Linked DNA regions of Homo sapiens: regions 2 and 3 are each linked to region 1. The links come from fine-mapping of genetic effects on plasma protein levels. A gene starts in region 1. Each other region holds a variant in brackets. All regions are shown on one strand. Distances are from middle to middle.

Region 1 (4,239 bases):
CCAATTTGAGCTGTGGAAATGAGATTGCTGGACTCTTCCTTTGTCTTAGTCAGGATTCTCTTGATGGCCGATGATAGAAAGTCAGCCCAAGGAACTCCGGCAAGAAGGAGCCTGTCTGCCCCAGAGCTGGTGTGTCTGGTGGAGAATGCGGGGCCCATGCCTGGTCCCACCGCCTCCCTCCGTCTTTTGTCCCTTCTTGGCTCCAGGCTTCCTGCAGGTGCACCTCACCCAGGGAGTTTTGGAAGCTACATCCCGGGTGGGCAGGGGCAGGCATGGCTCAGGGAGATGGGGGTCTACGAGGAGGGTGGGGAGGGGTCTCCTGTCCCCAGCAGAAGGCGAAGCTCTGTCCCCATCAGGAGCCTATCTGTGTCCCGGGTCACACTCTGCTCTCTGGGTGGTGTGGCTGAAAGATCCAGGCTTTCTTAGACGCAGCACTGGATTTCTATATCACAGAAGGAGGGCACAGCCACCGTGAAATGTCAGAAAAGGAGGAGGAGTGTGCTGGCCCTTCCTTCTCTCAGGAGAGGCCCCTCCCCGGGATGAGATTGTCCCCTCCTGAGATGCTAGGACTGGGACCCAGGCGACTGAGATGCCAGGACTGGGACTCAGAGGACTGAGATGCCACCTGAGGGGACGAGGCACCATCACTGCCCCTCCAGTGTCGGCCACACTCAGAGGCAGGGGGGCAGAAGGGCTGAAGGGAAGTCCCCCAGGTCCCTGAGAAATGGATTCGCTAGAGAAGGAGATGCTGATAAACCGGAAGTAAACATTGCTTGCTCTGGTCTTGCTGTTTGCAACCCCCCCAAAATATGTGGGTTAAAACCCTAACCCCCAAAACGATGGTGTGAGGAGGTGGGGCCTTAGGGAAGTGACAAGGTCATGGAGGTGGAACCTCCCGAGTGGGATCAGTATCCTCATACAGAGGCCCCAAGAGCGGCCTGGCCCCTTGACTTGGTGAGGACTCAGGGACCGCGCCGTCCCAGAACCAGAAGGCTCTCCCCAGGCAGTGTCTGCTGGTACCTGGATCTTGGACTTCCAGTCCCCAGAACTGTGGGAAAGAAGCTCCTGTGTTTTATAAGCTACACGGTCTATGGTGTTTTGCTAAAGCAGCCTGAATAGACTAAGAAATCACTCAACAAACACTAATTAAATTAAATGCTAGGCCATCAGAATACGAAGGGGAAGAAGACAGAAACACTCGCCTCCTGATCCAGCATCCAGAACGCTCTGGGGCCCAGCAAGAGGCTGTGCTCGCGTCTTTCTCGTATCTGATCTTCGCCTCCATCCACCTGCTCGCTGGTCCTTGGCTGTGCCTCTGATACCCCAGTGTGAGAACGTGGAGTTTCTTAAGGCAATTCTCTTATCATATTTTCTCTACTTGTCACAACAAACTTACAGGAAAGTTGTTATTCCATGCGTTTTAGAGCTGGGGAGCATAGCCCCCGTGGGCTGAGCAGCTGGCCGAAGTCCTCAGCCCCTGTGGTGAGGTGCAGCTGGAGTGTGATTCTCCGGGTCCTCAGATGGGGGCATCCCCTTGAGGCCCCGCCTCTTGGCCAGGCTGCAGCCCAGGACCGTGCCAGGTGTGTGTTATCTATATTTGGACACACGCTGTGCGAAACGACGGGCACCCTGCAATTATCCGTGTGGTGTAGACGCAGTGTACGTCTGTGGTAATGGCTATAAATAAGCCCCGACTTGCCGACTAGGCACCGCTCCTCTTTTGGGTAGGCAGTTCTTGCTAAAATAGCCCTAAGATACAATCGAGTGAAGACCTGAGTCGTTCTTGAAATAAAAAAAAAAAAACGAACAAACACACGAACATGCACACACACGCTCACAAACCCAGGGGCTTGTGCACCTCCCTCCCTCCACAGCCGACCTCAACTCGGGTGTCCAGGCCTGCGAATGGCACAAATGCTCACTGAAATCCATGTCATTATTAAAGACTCATTCAGGAGTTGCAATTTGTGAGCCAGGGAACCTGTAGCTCGAAAGGATTGAAGATATGTCTGAGAATTCACACGTAAGGATTAGAACTCATGGAGGAGAGTTGCGGGGAGGGAGCGTGGGAAGTCAGTGCCCTGCCCTCTCTTTCTGGGTCGGGGGCTGAAGTGTCACACCCGGTTTCCTGGGAAAAGTGCAGTTTGGGACTCAGAAAGGACACGTTCCAGTTTTGAATCGTGATTTCCCCCGCCCTCAGTTTGAACAAGAAGCTTTTCCTCCTGAGGTCAGGCTGGTGATTTACGATGTGGGTATTGATGTGGGGAGAGGCAGGCCCAGGCGTCTATATATAGTAGCTCCTCAGACCTTAAACGGGAGGGAGGCACAGGCGCTTGCTTTGCAGGAGTCAGCTCTGCCTTCCTCGGCTGGAGTGTGGGTGGCTTGGTGAGCCGGTGGTCAGGAATTCTCTCTCCTCCTTGCAATTTTCCTTTCTGTCTGGGTAAGTGTCTTTCTCTTCTTGCCTTTTCTAATTTGTGGCTTTAAGGGGAGGACCGGTAACTTCTGCACTCACATTTTCTAAGTACCTCTACTTCAGGGTCAAGAAGAGAGAGCCAGTGCACCCCGTCGCAGGCACCCTTTACTGTGGAAAACAGAGCAATTAGTTCTGGGATCTGTATTTCTTTGACGAGGTTTTATGCTCAACTAACATTTTATTTCCCACAGCCGTGGTCTTTGCTAAGTGCCGTTTAGCACCCTGCGGCGTGTGCTTTGGGTTTTAGCCCTGGTCTCATCGTGGCCCCAGGGGGCCCCCCAGTCAGTGGACTGATGTCTGCAAGTTTCATGAGATTCTCAGAAACGAAAGCCTCCCCCGAGGAGAGGGCTGACTTATAAAGGTGTGAAATAATAAAACTGGATATTTTCTTAAGGGAAAAAAGAGTCGAGGGTCATTCAGCTTAGACCTAGCCTATATTATCCACGGTATGGGAAAGAGAACAATCCTTGTCAGGACTTGCAAGTTTTTGCCCAAAAATGACAGCGTTCTTACGGCTGTTTTCTTCTTTGTGCTGTTGGGTGTGTTGTGACCCTTCAGACTTCTTCAGCTCCACTCCGCTGATAGAGGCTGTGCCTTCTCAGGGCGTGCTCTTGAAATGCAACCTGCTGGAGAAAGACAGTGGGGCTGGGTGGTTGCACGTGGAAGGCACCGGAGGCAAACGGAAGGAAGGGGTTTGCCATCACTGGGAACACCTGGCCTTTTCTAATTCTCCATTTCACATTCCTTTCTTACTAAGTAGAAGTAAAACAGGACTCAAAGAAAGCGTGGAACAAAGATAATTTAAGGCGTTATTTAATAAACCAAGTCCCAAGCTAAAACTTGTCTTGGGAGCCAAGGGCTTAGCCACTTGTGGCACAGGCCAACGCTGCGTGTCTGGGAGTCCCTTTCCCCTCTAGAAAGCTTTAATTTGGTGTATTTATTGACTTTGACATTTTTAACTGTACAAACAATTTCCTTCATTAAGTGGAAGTCAATGTTTTGTACTTCAAACATTTTTGCAAATTAAAACCCATCCTGGTGACATGAGGAATGGGCTCCACACGTTGTTTGCAGGAAGGAATTAGGATGGGGATATCAGACACGTGGTCCCCTGCACTGGAGGAGAGGCTCGCGTTTCATCCTGGTGTCATGATTCCTAAACGTGTCAGGAGCATTCCGGGAGTGGCCGGGGAGCTGGGCTGTGGTGGAAAGTGGGCTGGACGCTGTCAGGAGAGTCAGCTGGCGCCTGGGTTCGGCCGTGGCCCTACCGGTGACCCGGGCAAGTCATATTTCCCTGGGGACGGTCTGTGCTAACAGTACAGCGTGGCGCCAGGATTATCTACACACAGGCTGTCCAAGCTGGGGGACTGTTAGCTGCCACCTCACTCAGCCCCCTGTTTTACAGCAGAGCAGGTGGAGGCCCCTGAGCTGAAGGTCAGCAGGTCCCCACTGGAGTCTCAGCCTCCCAATGCGCCTGAGCCCCAGGGACTCACATCAAAAACTACCCTGCGAGGAAAAGCTGCTTTCTTTCTCTCTCTCTTTCTTTTTTCTTTTTTTTTTTTTTGGTTGGTGTGTGTAGGGGGTATTTAACACATGTCTGAGATAGTTCCTTAAAAAGGAAAACAGCTTTCTATGTAGACAGTAGAGGGACATTGGGGAGCTGATCGGCCCAGGTCCTGTCATTTTCTTTATAGTGTCATAAATAGTACAGGTTGATCATTCCAAATCTGAAGATCAGAAATCCAGAATGCTCTAAATTCTGAAAC
Region 2 (4,239 bases), 290 kb after region 1:
AAAAATAAAAATATTAATGTGAAAATTTTGTCCTCTGAAAAGCTGAAACAAAGAAACAAAACAAACAAACAAAATCGTGATAGGCCTATCTTGAGCTAGATCTAGGAGAAAAAAGGAAGAGAAATTCCAGAATAAATAATTGTAAAAATGAAAAAGTGACATACCATCTATTCAACAGAGATTGACAGGGTAATAAAAGGCTATTTTGCCATAAAATTAGAAAATTGAGATAAAATGTCCAAATAGCTAAGAATATTTTACCAAAATTGAATAAAAAAGGAATAGAAAACCAAAATATCACTGGAATCAGTTTAAAAATTCTTTATTAAGTAAACAATTGGCTGAAATTGTTTTACAGAGTTGTTCTTCCAAGTTGTCACAGAACAGAGCAATATACTTTCTATGAATAATTCTAAGGTACAGAAAGAGAGGGCAAACTCTCAATTTTATTCTGTAACACTAGGAAAATTCAGATGCCAAAACCATACAAGACAGAAAAGGGAATAAATATTACGAGGCAATAAATATTACGAAGGAATAAAAATATTAAAAAAAAATTCCTGTCCAGTCCACCAACCTTACAAAACTCAAGAAGGTTGAAGTTGGAGGAGCCACGTTTTGCTGTTCACAAAATTCCCTTTTTCCACTTTCGTAATGTAAGACAATGCTGGAAAATGAACACTCAGCCAGAAGCCACATTTCTCATCCCCTTTTAAGTGGGTGATACGTTAAGATGGAATTGACCAATGGGATGTGAGTATAGAAGATTTATACCTCTTTCAAACTTGGCTCATGAAAAATTGCATGTTTGAGCATCTGTGCTCTTTTCCTCTTCTGATTGGCTGGAATGAAGACAGCCCTCGTCAGACACTAAATCTGCCAGCACCTTGACGTTGAGCTTCCCAGCCTCCGGAACTATGAAAAATCAATTTCAGGACTTTATAAATTATTCAGTCTAAGAAATTTTGTTATAGCAGCAGGAAAAGCTCAGGACAGTATTCAATAACTATTTGCTGAATGAGTGAACAGTAGTATTTTCGTAGCACATTTAGCTATATTCTAATATTGTTGTTATTCAAATATTCTGTATTCCTATTTGTATGTTAAAGTAATATTTTCATAATCTACAAACAAGTAGGCTGCTTCTAAAATTCATCTATAAAACATATATGAAGAGTGAAATCCCTCACAGTGAGTTTGTTTATACATAAGTAATACAGTTTATTATTGATTTTGAATCATGAAGTGGAGAGTTTATTCAATGTAACAAAGAAATATTGGACAAATCTAATCCCTGAGTCTGTGAGTTTTTAGAGAGCTTTTATTGATTTTCTTTACAGTACATCTGTTTTTCGGGATTAATTAGTACTTCTCCTAGAAGACAGATCATATATCCAAAATAATCTATTTTCTTTTCCTTCAAGAAATTAATATCTAACAAAAAAATGACTGAAGCCTGCTGAGATTACTACACCAATGTGCATTCATCACTTTAATATACCACAGATGTATTTTCCATGTCTAGTGAAGCAAAATGTTGCCTAGATTAAAAGATATGGAAACTGGGGATTCCCAGGCAAGATGGCCAGATAGGACAGCTCCAGTCTGCAGCTCCCAGCGAGACCAACGCAGAAGGTGGGTGATTTCTGCATTTCCAACTGAGGTACTTGGTTCGTCTCATTGGGGCTGGTTAGACAGTGGGTGCAGCCCATGGAGGGTGAGCAGAAGCAGGGTGGGGCATTGCCTCACCCAGGAAGCAAAAGGGGCTGGGTAACTCCCTCCCCTAGCCAAGGGAAGCCGTGAGGGACTGTGCTGTGAGAGATGGTGCTGTCAGGCCGAGATACGATGCTTTTCCCACAGTCTTCACAACCCACACACCAGGAGATTCCCTCGGGTACCTACACCACAATGGACCTGAGTTTCAAGCACAAAACTGGGCCGCCATTTGGGCAGA[C/T]GCCGAGCTAGCTGCAGGAGTCTTTTTTTGTACCCCAGTGGCGCCTGGAACATCAGCGAGACAGAACCATTCACTCCCCTGGAAAGGGGGCTGAAGCCAGGCAGCCAAGTGGTCTTGCTCCAGTGGATCCCACCCCAACAGAACCCAGCAAGCTAAGATCCACTGGCTGGAAATTCTAGCTGCCAGCACAGCAGTCTGGTCAACCTGGGATGCTTGAGCTTGGTTGGGGGAGGGGTGTCTGCCATTACTGAGGCTTGAGTAGGCGGTTTTCTACTCGCAGTGTAAACAAAGACACCAGAAGTTCAGACTGGGCAGAGAACACTGCCAAGCTGCAAAGTCGCTGTAGCCAGACTGCCTCTCTAGATTCCTCCTCTCTGGGCAGGGCATTTCTGAAAGAAAGGCAGCAGCCCCAGTCAGGGACTTATAGATAAAACTCCCACCTCCCTGGGACAGAGCACCTGGGGGAAGAGGCAGTTGTGGGTGCAGCTTCAGCAGACTTAAGCGTTCCTGCGTCCCGGCTCTGAAGAGAGCAGCAGCTCTCCCAGCACAGCATTCAAACTCTGCTAAGGGTCAGACTGCCTCCTCAAGTGGGTCCCTGACCCCCATGCCTCCTGACTGGGATACACCTCCCAGCAGGGGTTGACAGACACCTCATACAGGAGAGCTCCAACTGCCATCTGGCAGGTTCCCCTCTGGGATGAAGCTTCCAGAGGAAGGAGCAGGCAGCAATTTTTGCTGTTCTGCAGCCTCCCCTTGTGATACCCAGGCAAACAGGGTGTGGAGTGGACCCCCAGCAAACTCCAGCAGACCTGCAGAAGAGAGTCCTGACTGTTAGAAGGAAAACTAACAAACAGAAAGCAATAACATCAACAAAAAGGATTCGAAGGTCACCAACAGCAAAGACCAAAGGTAGATAAATCCACAAAGATGAGGAAAACCCAGCACAGAATGGCTGAAAATTCCAAAAACTAGAATGCTGCTTCTCTTCCAAAGGATCACAACTCCTCACCAGCAAAGAAACAAAACTAGACAGAGAATGAGTTTGACAAATTGATGGAAGTAGGCTTCCGAAGGTGGGTAATAAACTCCTCTGAGCTAAAGGAGCATGTTCTAACCCAATGCAAGGAAGCTAAGAACCTTAATAAAAGGTTAGAAGAATTGCTAACTAGAATATCCAGTTTAGAGAAGAACATAAATGAACTGATGGAGCTGAAAACACAGCACAAAAACTTCGTGAAGCATATACAAGTATCAATACTAGAATTGATCAAGTGGGAGAAATCATATCAGAGATTGAAGATCAACTTAATGAAATAAAGCATGAAGACAAGATTAGAGAAAAAAGAATGAAAAGGAATGAACAAAGCCTCCAAGAACTATGGGACTATGTGAAAAGACCAAACCTACGTTTGATTGGTGTACCTGAAAGTGACGGGGAGAATGGAGCCAAGTTGGAAAACACACTTCAGGATATTATCCAGGAGAACCTCCCCAGTCTAGCAAGACAGGCCAACATTCAAATTCAGGAAATACAGAGAACACCACAAAGATACTCCTGGAGAAGAACAACCCCAAGACACATAATCATCAGATTCACCAAGTTTGAAATGAAGGAAAAAATGTTAAGGGCAGCCAGAAACAGAGGTTGGGTTACCCACAAAAGGAAGCCCATCAGATTAACAGTGGATCTCTCTGCAGAAACCCTACAAGCCAGAAGAGAGTGAGGGCCAAGATTCAACATTATTAAATAAAAGAATTTTTAACCCAGAATTTCATATCCAGCCAAACTAACCTTCATAAGTGAAGGAGACATAGAATCTCTTACAGACCAGAAAATGCTGAGGGGTTTTGTCACCAGCAGGCCTGTCTTACAAGAGCTCCTCAAGGAAGCACTAAATATGGAAAGGAAAAACCAGTACCAGCCACTGCAAAAACAAACCAAAATGTAAAGGCCATCAACACTATGAAAAATCTGCATCAACTAATGGGGAAAATAACCAGCTAGCATCATAATGACAGGATCAAATTCACACATAACAATATTAACCTTAAATATAAATGGGCTAAATGCCCCAATTAAAAGTCACAGAATAGCAAATTGGATAAAGAGTCAAGAGCCGTTGGTGTGCTGTATTCAGGAGACCCATCTCACATGCAAAGACATGCATAGGCTCAAAATAAAAAGATGAAGGAATATTTATCAACTAAATGGAAAGCAAAAAAAAAAAAAAAGCAGAAGTTGCAATCTTAGTCTCTGATAAAACAGACTTTAAACCAACAAAGAT
Region 3 (4,239 bases), 61 kb after region 1:
TAAAAAGATTTGGATGGCAAATGAAGTATGCAATTAAATCTCTGCCTGTGCACTAATGGCCCTGGATGAGAAGGAGAGCACTTTGGGTCATCTTCATGCTTGGCAGGGGTTGTTCTTCGAATCGTCAAGCCACGTGCAGGAAGGAGGGCATTTTTTAAATATTACTGCTGGATTTTTATCAGAAAATTTTAAAAAGCTGTTGGTAATTTTCTTGATTTCAACGAATAAAAGTTCCCTGGAGTCAACCTAAAAAGGGCAAATACTTCTGAAGGCAGGACACACACTCATAGGATACACAGTCTATTTTGTGTTGCTGTAACAGAACACCGAGGCTGGGTAATTGTTTTTAAAAGTTTATTGGGGCGTGGGTGTGGTGGCTCACGCCTGTAATCCCAGCAATTTGGGAAGCCGAGGCGGGCGGATCACGAGGTCAGGAGATCGAGACCATCCTGGCTAACACAGTGAAACCCCGTCTCTACTAAAAAATACAAAAAGAATTAGCTGGGCATGGTGTTGGGCGCCTGTAGTCCCAGCTACTCAGGAGGCGGAGGCAGGAGAATGGGGTGAACCTGGGAGGCGGAGGTTGCAGTGAGCCGAGATCGCGCCACTGCACTCTAGCCTGGGCAACGGAGCAAGACTCCATTTAAAAAAAAAAAAAGAAAAAAAAAGTTTATTTGGCTCATGATTCTGGAGGCGGGAAGTCTAAGAAGCACAGTGCCGGGATCTGCTGTGGTGGCTCCGGCAGCTCTGGTGGCTCCGGTGAGGGCCTCCCGCTGCCCCACAACATGGTAGAGAACTGGGTGTGTGCGGAAACGGACCCAGCATGGGAGGCAGCCTTGCTTTATAACATTTACTCTCACTGGAACTACTCCATTCCAGTTTAACCAACCAGCAGCCGTGGTTATTAGCAAGAATCTACCCAGTCTTTCCAGAAAGACACGAGTCTATCTTAACGACCTAATCACCTCTTTTAAAAAGAATTTTTATTATTCTGTTTTTTATAGAGACAGGATCTCACTATGTTGCCCAGGCTGGTCTTGAACTCCTGAGCTCAAGCGATCCTCTGGCCTCGGCCTCCCAAAGTGCTGGGATTACAGGCATGAGTGCTGCCCCCAGTCATTAATCACTTCTTAAAGGCTCCACCTCCCAACACCGTTGCACTGGCTTTTACATTTCAATGTGAGTTTTGAGGGGATCATCCACATCCAAACCACAGCCCCAGAGTGTGACCTGAGTGTCAGGAAGCAGTGCAGCCTCAGACTGTAAAGATCCTGATGGCTGTCTGTGGTGGCCTCTTCATCTCACCCTGCCACCTGGCTTTCCTTGCATCTGTGTCTTCTTCATAACCCGAGAGCACTGACACTTCATGGCCTCAGTTCCACTCACCAGCAGAGGCTGAGATGTGTCTCGTCCAATTCCTAATTCCTACGACATAGATTCTGCCTTGCACACGGCCAGATGTTCACCTGGGTCAAAAAGTAGCAAATAAACCACAAACAACCCCTACTCCCAAACAAGACAAGGCAAGGCCCCATGGAGAAGGCAGAGCTGTGTGAAGGGGGAGCTTCATGGTGGGCACATGGCTGCTGGGCTTCCCCTGAGGGTCAGAGAAGGAGATTCCAGAGAGAACAGGATCTTCAGGGCCTGGAGAGGCAGCCCTAAGAGGTTTTCTGCAGTTGTATGAGATGCAGGGAAGGACGTGTGCAGAAATATGGTAAATTAAAAAAAATTAGCAACAACAAAACAACCAAGCCCCTCCAGGTCCTCCCTAAAGTGTTTTCTCTCTCACGATTCTCTCATCAGTCCTGGGTCATTAAATGCAACTGATGATTTGGTGTAAGATGAGGTCTCTGCATTGGGTACCCCCTCGGCATTAGTCCGTTCTCACGCTGGTATGAAGAAATATCTGAGACTGGGTGACTTATAAAGAAAAGAGGTTTAATTGACTGACAGTCCTTCGTGGCTGGGGAGGCCTCAGGAAACTTACAGTCATGGCAGAGGGCACTTCTTCACAGGGCGGCAGGACAGAGTGAGTGCCAGCAGGGGGAATGCCAGGTGCTTCTAAAACCATCAGATCTCATAAGACTCAGTCACTATCATGAGGACAGCATGGGGGAAACCACCCCCGTGATCCAATCACCTCACTCCCTCTACACTTGGGGATTACAATTTGAGATGAGATTTGGGTGTGGACGCGGAGCCAAACCATATCACCCTCTCCCAAAAGAGAGTTGAAAGAACACCGTGTCCCTAAGCCGCTCACTTCATACTCTTCTTATGCAGGCACCAAGGAAATCAGTGCTGGTGTCGATGAACAAGGCAACATCT[A/G]TCTGGGCTTCGACTGCCAGGAAATGACAGACGCGTCTCAGTTCACCTGGTGTAAATCCTACGAGGAGATTTCAGATGATGAGAGGTTTAAAATTGAAACCGTGGGGGATCAGTAAGTGAGGCCTGGAAGTTGGATACTGGAAACTTTTAGAAGTTCCTGCAAACAGAAATGATCGACATTCACCTACTCTTCTTCCTTTTTAGCTCCAAGCTGTACTTAAAGAATCCGGATAAGGAGGATTTAGGGACTTACTCCGTGTCTGTAAGTGATACAGACGGAGTGTCCTCCAGTTTTGTTCTGGACCCAGAAGGTAATATTTATATGGCAGAACCTTGCCTGTTTTGGTTTTATCACACTTTCAAAGATTGACACCAACATAGAAAAGACTTACTTGCTTAGAAAAAAGACGTATGTTTGCAGGAGGCTGGCGGTGGGGGCTATGTATATAAGCCAAAACTTGCTTTAGAAATTAAACAAACTCTAAAGTTTATACTGTTTCCACCAAGTAGTCTCTGGTCCTGATATATTGCTTGTATAGCCTTCAATTTGTACTTTTAAAGTTGAGTCTTAGCCACATTTTAATAGTTTGGTATGCAGAGGGTAACATATTAACTAAGAAATCCATGAAATTAATGAGAGACCTACGGGTGGAAGAGTCTTCCCTTCCTTCCAACACTGAGAAATCAGATGATCAAAGAAAAATTTTTTTATGCATGTAAAATAATTTTAACTGACGAAGTGAAAATCTGCTGCTGTGTTACCCATGGAAGACGGCAGAGAGAAGTGAGAAAAGTCTGTTTAGTGATCAAGGGGAAAAACAATAGTTTTCTTAGATAGGTTCACAGGTCTGAGTTCACCAGGCACACAGTCTCATGCAGGCAGGGCTGATTTTTTTAAACTGCCTAGCATCACGTGTATTTGTGTGGCCCGTCATCTACCCCACCCACAGGACAGCGTCAGCCTTAGACATTTTTAAACGAAGGGGCAGTGGTGCAGCGTGAACTCGTAGGGCTGGATGGTATCCTCAGATTTCTGGGTTTCTTTGGGTGTCTAAGGCATTTGAATTTCCAAAAGTTTTCTATTAAAGTGCTCTCCAGGGATGGCATAAATGATCTCCAGGGGAGTCCTAAGGTTTACAAGCAGATCCTTTAGTTATCAATCACTGTCCTGGTTGATATCATGCAGAGGCTGTGATCTGAGAACATCCGACCCAGGATCGGTGCTGTGGGCTGGGCAGGAGGATGGGCAGGTATCCACGGAGGGGGAAGCCAGAATCACACTCTCGGCTTCTCGAGTGTGCAGGTTTGGCTCAATGTTGGTGAAATTCAGGAAAACTCATGCACATTTAACAAGACACAGGCAGACAAATGAGGAGGCCGCACTGTCTCGCCTTTCTGGGGTCCTCAGTTCACCACTCACAGGCAGGGTGGGGAAGGACCCAAAATCCATTTGCATGCTTTTAAAGCAGCCTCTGTTGGCCCTGCCTCCAGGGTCTTGACACAGTTTTGTACCTTCACGACATCCTGAAGGACTTCTGAAAAGCTGTGCATTCCTCTGCACCATTTCAAAGTTTCCATCTTAATTTTAACTTTTTTAAATACTTGCAAAAGAAAAAATTCCACCTTCTCTTATATTGTGTATAGACTTCAAATATATTTGAGGTAAAACTTTGCAGTTGAAGATTTAGTTCATTCCATGTATGGAAATTCCTACCAGAAGGTTGAACTGGGAAAGCCAGTCCTCCCTGTGAAACCAGTTGCCAATATGAATTTACTTTTGGGCAGAAAAATCTAACTTCATTTTTCCATTTTGAATAGACATGTTCTTGAAGGCCTTGGAGATCACCATCTTCTTTCTGATTCTAATTTTAAGAAGGAAGGAGAGAAAATGAAGTGGCTTAGAGCCCAGAT

Alleles and levels. Positions count from the first base shown, and alleles are read on the strand shown. Strength reflects both the effect of a copy and how common the allele is. Not every link is listed here.
As copies of C replace T in region 2, the plasma level of the protein whose gene starts at base 2,318 in region 1 goes down (strong association).

What was found. PIP is the chance, under the fine-mapping model, that this variant and not a neighbour inherited with it causes the effect. Protein levels are from antibody-based Olink assays in UK Biobank. Linkage for the fine-mapping came from a reference panel and not from the study's own genotypes, which makes the PIPs less certain.
Region 2: its variant is fine-mapped to the plasma level of the MYOM2 protein (UK Biobank, PIP above 0.99).
Region 3: its variant is fine-mapped to the plasma level of the MYOM2 protein (UK Biobank, PIP above 0.99). The variant lies in the coding sequence of MYOM2. If it changes the protein, the assay may bind it differently, which can mimic a change of level.

The regions. Positions count from the first base shown.
Region 1 is chr8:2,042,729-2,046,967 of GRCh38, forward strand. It overlaps MYOM2 (myomesin 2), which reads left to right and starts at 2,318. Exons shown (of 37, transcript NM_003970.4): 1 at 2,318-2,440.
Region 2 is chr8:2,335,044-2,339,282 of GRCh38, forward strand. No RefSeq gene overlaps it. Among named protein-coding and RNA genes, the nearest start is that of MIR7160, 260 kb to the left of the region's middle. RefSeq lists enhancers at 1,492-2,230, 2,231-2,969. The variant C/T (reference allele first, on the strand shown) is at 1,955.
Region 3 is chr8:2,103,959-2,108,197 of GRCh38, forward strand. MYOM2 (myomesin 2) reads left to right here. Exons shown (of 37, transcript NM_003970.4): 22 at 2,284-2,440; 23 at 2,533-2,639. Among named protein-coding and RNA genes, the nearest start is that of MIR7160, 29 kb to the left of the region's middle. RefSeq lists an enhancer at 1,635-2,833. The variant A/G (reference allele first, on the strand shown) is at 2,329.